2 linked regions of the Homo sapiens genome follow. The protein of the gene in region 2 purifies or fractionates together with the protein of the main gene of each other region. This does not show direct contact. Each region holds a gene or a part of one and is shown on either strand. Other genes may lie near its edges.

Region 1 (2,700 bases), on a different chromosome or scaffold from region 2:
GGTCAGGAGTTCAAGACCACCCTGGCCAACATGGTGAAACCCCATATCTACTAAAAATAATTTTTTTAAAAATTAGCCAGTCACGTTGGTGTCTGCCTGTGGTCCCAGCTACTCGGGAGGCTGAGGCACAAGAATCACTTGAACCCAGGAGGCAGAGTGAGCCGAGGTTGTGCCACTGCACTGCAGCCTGGGCTACAGAGAGCAAGACTCTGTCTCAAAAAAAATAAAATAAAATAAATAAAAAAAGATATAGTATTAATGCCTGTATTTATGAAGACAGGGCCATTGCACTGCTGCTATGCTGAAATGAACTTTTATAAAGTATTATTGACTATAGCCAACTACAGATGGCATATGCCTTAAAGATGCATTTTTCTATGTATTTAATATTTTGTGTACAGTAAAAGTCAGAACTCATTTAAAGAACTTTAAGGGATCCTTTAGAAACATTTTTACTTAATTTCAAATGAGTGGGCTGAGCATGTAGACTAGCAGCTTTTTATCAAACCTGGCATTGTCAGGTTGAACTTATAAATACGAATAGTTACTACTCTGACTTGTAAATGTAGCTGCTAAAGTATGAGGTATATTTAAGAAGAATAGATTAGTTTCATTATACCTATAAGAACAAGAATTCAAAAGTGAGGTAGTCATCCAGGTTCCCCCTCCCACAATATTTTTGTATCATAAAATTTAGATGACTTTTTTGGGTTACATTTTTATCCATATATTTTGAACTAACAGAACTTGGCAGAATGTGTGTTGAATATTCTTTACATTTAACAATTAAAAACAACTAAAACTGAATAGCAAATAGTTTATTGGTAAGTACACGGTTTCAACGGGAGTAATAAATTCACATGAAAAGGAGACAATAATCAAGTCAAAAGAATAAATGCTTACTAATCATCAGAAAATCTGTGGCCATTAGGGCTGGCACGTAAAAATCCAAAATCACTCAGAGGCCAAATCTGTAAAATCAAAATGAGGTTGAAGACAATTAGTGAAAGTAATGTTATAGTATCATCATATTCCCTTTTGCTATCTGTCCCTTTTCTCTATGCCAGATAAACACTTTCTCCTTACTCATCAATCAAGAATAAAATTTTCTACATCAAAGTAAGACTTGAGAAAATAAACTTATGTGTATATATGTTTAAACTCCAAAGTTTGGGACATTCAAACAATGTACATGAAATTATATGTGTGTGGTGTGTGAATAAATATGTATGAATATATGGTCTGTGTTTTCTTTTACTACTTGCAAGTAAGAGTTAACTGTGTACTTTCAACCAAAGGGGCTTAGGTTTAAGTACTTGAATATGGCATCTGTTTTAAATGTAAAGAATCCTGTAAATTATCCAACAGCTCCATGTATTCATGAATGTTTTTCTCCTCACTGATTGTGATAAAAAGGAGGGGCCAGTGAAAACAATCTTCCCTAATAATCATACATTCACAATAAGTCTGTGACTCACAGTACTCAACTGGGGTATCCCTACTTTACAGGTAGTTTGAATCTAGACTGTTCTTCTGCACATGCTTATTAAAATATGCCCTGGGCAGGATGTGAACATGGTTTTAAGAGTTGTACAAGAGAGAACTGAACTTTTGGAAATTCAAATTAAAGTTTTCTTAGGCTATAGCTAAGGTAGTTTGGATTTTATTATTATCTCTATGGGAGCAGGGGCAATGGGGGAATAGGTTTGCATATGGCTATTAAGTTAAGGCCAACAGGTTCAAAAAATATATTCGGTGCAACAGTTAAGTACACTGACAGCTTGAAGATTTCAGAGATCATTTTGAGAGAAACTTTTTCTAGCTCAGAAAATAAACCTTACATTTTAAGCAGAAAATGGTACCTTAAAGAAGATTCGTCCTCTTATTAGTCCATATGGAATAGGTCCATAGCACCTGGAATCTGTAGAATTCTGTAGATTGTCACCTTCTAACCAAACATGACCCATTGGCACCTAGAATTAGAGAAGAAATGCAGCCTCTTAAAGATAAAACCTAATTTGGGTACTATAATTAAAAAGCATGTCATTCAGAGGTAGGGAGAAATGTCCTAAGGCTCTCTTTTATAGAATAGATACAAATCCTAATATTGCATTTTTGCTTTTATTTCTTGCACAATAACTTTTACTAAATATCAAAGGTTTCAACTTTTTTAAAAACCTATCATCTTTTTTTGTCATATGGTTCCCAAATATTAATTTGTTATACAAACCCCAAACTGAGGTTATAAGAGATCAAAATAGTGTGACAGGGTCATTAATTTAATAGACTTCAAAAGAGGTCATTAGGATGCTGACTGAAAATGCGCCCTTGTGTCTCAATAACAGTATAAGCAGGGCAGCCACTCACTCAGCAACATCCTGGGGCCAATACCAAAGCCAAACCTATTAGAATGCTCATGATGAACTAAATGGTAATTGATTGTGACATCAATTACAAATAATCTCATCATTTTATTGGAGTAGGCTTGTCAGAATTCTAATTAACATCCCTGTTCTGCCTTTGTACAGGCCATATCTTCAATGCATTATACTTCAATAATGACCATGAAGAACCAGAAGGACCTATTATAAAATCATCAGTTGTAAAATTAATGATGGTGACCTTCTCCTAAATGAAAAGACTATCTCCTATAATGTTCTATGTATAAACTGGTAAATAACAAGATTTTTACTCAGTGAC
Region 2 (3,839 bases):
GTTTTTGCATTTCTACATTATGTGTGAAATGAAAATGTCACTAATTAGCAGCACAGAAAATGGTAATCATAGCATGGAGCCATAACCATCATGGTTATAGTGAGTACTGCATTTCAGAAACACCACCATATATAGAAAAATAATAAATGTGGCCAGGTGCGGTGGCTCATGCCTGTAATCCCAGCACTTTGGGAGGCCAAGGCAGGCAGACTGCTTGAGGTCAGGAGTTAGAGACCAGCCTGGACAACATGATGAAACCCCATCTCTACTGAAAATACAAAAATTAGCTGGCCATGATGGCATACACCTGCAGTCCCAGGTACTTGGGAGGCTGAGGCACGAGAATTGCTTGAGCCTGGGAGGCAGAGCCTGCAGTGAGCCAAGATCGCACCACTGCACTCCAGCCTGGGCAACAGAGCGAGACTCCGTCTCACACACACACATGCACACCCCAAAAAAAAAAAAAAAAGAATAAATGTGAATTTGTTGTATTGTTACAATTTTTAAATCTGATGTTAATAGACAGGTATGAATTCTCCTAAAAAAAGACAAACATACATAATCAGGTAAGTGATATATAAATATCCCTATTGAAATCTTTATTAAATCAACACAATAATTGTTTTTGTTATTTCAGAAGCCAAAAAGAAAAAAGAAATCAATGGAAAACGACAAATCCTTGCTGCCCATAATATCAAGGAAATAGCCAACAAAAGGATCATATTTCCACACCCACTATCTTAGAACCATTTTTCTGACCTCCTTAAGTTGATCTGTACTGCCCCAAGATGCTGAGCGCTTGTGAGACCCTTTCTTCTTTTCAGAGTATTCTTCAGCCCATGCACTCTCTGTCTGTAATGAAAAAAGAGGGGAGGTGTATTTAACAAAAATCATTTCACAACAATGTCTACCATATTTTTCTATTATAAAACATATTTCCATTACAAAAAAATTAGACATTAAAAATAATTAACACAAATTACTCAAAATTCTCCTGGCACCAGTTACTTAACTGGTATTAATTACAATTAATATTTTGGCATACTTCATTTTTATTGCTAATAAAAAATTAGTATTTTTACATAATTATAATTATACTACAAATAAAGCATTTATGGAACAAAGTTAACTATATATAATAACTAGAGTTACCATAGTTAACTAACATATAATAGCTAATAATGTCAGTTATTATTAGCACGCACCAGGCACACTAATAATAGCTAACATTCTTGTGCTCTTATGTGCTAGGCACTGTGCTTTCATATGCTTTATCTGACTTAACACATGTAAGTTGCCTAAGGTGTTACAAGCGGCAAAGCCAAGAAATAAACCTGAGACTCCAGAGCTTGTAATATTAACTTCTATATTATGTCTAGTCTTGCCATAAGTATCTTCAGAGAACAGCTTCAAAAATGTTAAACCTGGCTGGGCGCGGTGGCTCACGCCTGTAATCCCAGCACTTTGGGAGGCCAAGGCGGACAGGCCACGAGGTCAGGAGTTCGAGAACAGCCTGACCAGCATGGTGAAACCTTGTCTCTACTAAAAATACAAAAATTAGCGTGTGCTTGTAATCCCAGCTACTCAGGAGGCTGAGGCAGGAGAATCGCTTGAACCCGGGAGGTGGAGATTGCAGTGAGCCGAGATCGTGCCACCGTACTCCAGCCTGGATGACAGAGGGAGGCTCCGTCTCAAAAAAAAAAAAAAAAAAAAAAAAGTTAAACCTTAAGTAGTTATACCAAACCCAGAATTTAAAAAGTGTATTGGGAAAGAAAATACAAATGAGTTCCTAGCACATGAAACTATGCTCAACCTCACTGATAAGAAGGGAAATGAAAGTTAAAGCTTCAACAAGATTGAGCAATTTGCTAATATAAACTCTCCTATATTGTTAGTGGGAGCATACAGCCTTTATGGGGGGATATTCAGCACCTGCTGTCAAAGTTATAAATGCGCAAACTGACACAGCAACCCCTTATTTAACAATTTATCCTGCACAGATACCAAATGCACATCTTTATGTACAAAATGACTTGCCTATTATTCCCTGTAGCACTGTTCTTACAAGTAAGACTGAAACAATGTAAGTAAGTTAGATTTATTTAGGTTTGGCTAAATAAATTATGGTATACCTTTATAACAGAGTACTGTGCAGCTATAAAAATGAATAAGGAAATTCACAATATACAGACATGAAATAATCTCCATGATATACTGTTAAGTGAAAAACCTCAAGGCTCAGTACCGTGTGTATAGCAACTGCCTTTATATGGGACTGCTAAAAAGAATGCATGTGTGTGTAAATTATATCTGGAAGAAAATAGATGGTAACAAAGAAAATTGGTACCAGTGGCTGTCTCTGGGGAAAAAGACCCTTAGTGTATACCCTTCTGTACCTTCTGAATTTTGTACATGAAATAATAAAAAATACCAAAAAATACTGTGCAGTTTGAATATCTTTTGCACTATTAACGTACCAATTACTAATTATAAAATGGTCTAGTTTCAAATGGGGAAGGAAAAGTTTTCAAAAATGAAGACACTGTGATTCTAATTAGTCATGTCCCAGGTCTGGATCTTCTCCTTATAGCCAAAAGGACTCCATTCTGACAAGGATCCTTAAATACACTGAATCAAAAGGAAGGGCTACAATTTGGTCAACTTCCCACCACTCTATGCCCTATTTCACCCTAAACTCCAGTTTCACTTTGAGGTTACCAACTGATGTCACACATCCCAGAGGTGACCCCTACTGTACTTATAATTTCTCATATTAGGATCCACAGGCTCTTTAAGTCCATTGTTAAAATACCTGTCACAAAGATCAACATGTAAATAGGACCATATAGCATAAAGTATCAAAATCAAAAACCAAAATCAAAATAATAAACTTAATACTATAAAATTTAAAACCTTAACAAATGAATTTTTTTTTTTTAATTTTTAAGTTCAAGGGTACATGTACTGGTTACATAGGTAAACAGGTAAACTCGTGTCATGGGGGTTTGTTGTACAGATTATTTCGTCACCCAGGTACTAAGCCTAGTACTCATTAGCTATTTTCCCTGATCCTCTCCCTCCTCCCACCCTCCACCCTCTAGAAGGCCCCAGAATCTGCTCTTCCCCTCTATGTGTCCATGTGTTCTCATTATTTAGCTCCCATTTATAAGTGAGAACATGCAGTATTTGGTTTTCTGTTCCTGTGTTAGTTTGCTAAGGATAATGGCCTCTAGCTCCATCCATGTTCCTGCAAAGGACATGATCTTGTTTATTTTTATGGCTGCACAGTAGTCCATGGTGTATATGCACCACATTTTCCTTATCCAGGCTACTGTTGATGGGCATTTAGGTTGATTCCATGTCGTTGCTATTGTGAATAAGCAGCATAGTATGCGTGGTTCAGAATCACATATGTTGGTGTTAAACAAACATGTTTAAGTTTCAGATCAGTTAAATAACATTTTTTGGGCCAGGCGTGGTGGCTCATGCCTGTAATCCCAGGAGGCCGAGGCGGGTGGATCACGAAGTCAGAAGTTTGAGACCAGCCTGGCCAACATAGTGAAACCCCGTCTCTACAAAAAGTACAAAAAATTAGCCGGGCGTGGTGGCAGGCACGTGTAATCCCAGCTGCTTGGGAGGCTGAGGCAGGAGAATCGCTTGAACTTGGGAGGTGGAGGTTGCAGTGAGCTGAGATCTCGCCACTGCACTCTAGCCCGGGCGACAGTGAGAGGCTCCATCTCCAAAAAAAAAAAAAAAAAAAATTGTATCTTTACAAGATGCTTCTCTTATATGAATTTTTAAATTCCTCATTTATAAGAATAATGTCAGGCCAGGCACAG

The links.
Region 1: the proteins of FAM117B (region 2) and IMMP1L purify together in Homo sapiens (affinity purification with mass spectrometry; 2 studies listed by BioGRID and IntAct, with this or other methods). This does not show direct contact.

The regions. Positions count from the first base shown.
Region 1 is NC_000011.10:31,431,598-31,434,297, forward strand, and holds the end of IMMP1L (mitochondrial inner membrane protease subunit 1), read right to left. Parts: intron 1,974-2,700; coding exon 1,863-1,973; intron 1,239-1,862; exon of another isoform or gene 972-1,238; coding exon 903-971; 3' UTR 804-902; downstream 1-803. UniProt on the Homo sapiens protein: Catalyzes the removal of transit peptides required for the targeting of proteins from the mitochondrial matrix, across the inner membrane, into the inter-membrane space. Known to process the nuclear encoded protein DIABLO.
Region 2 is NC_000002.12:202,721,930-202,725,768, reverse strand, and holds part of FAM117B (protein FAM117B), read right to left. Parts: intron 853-3,839; coding exon 760-852; intron 1-759.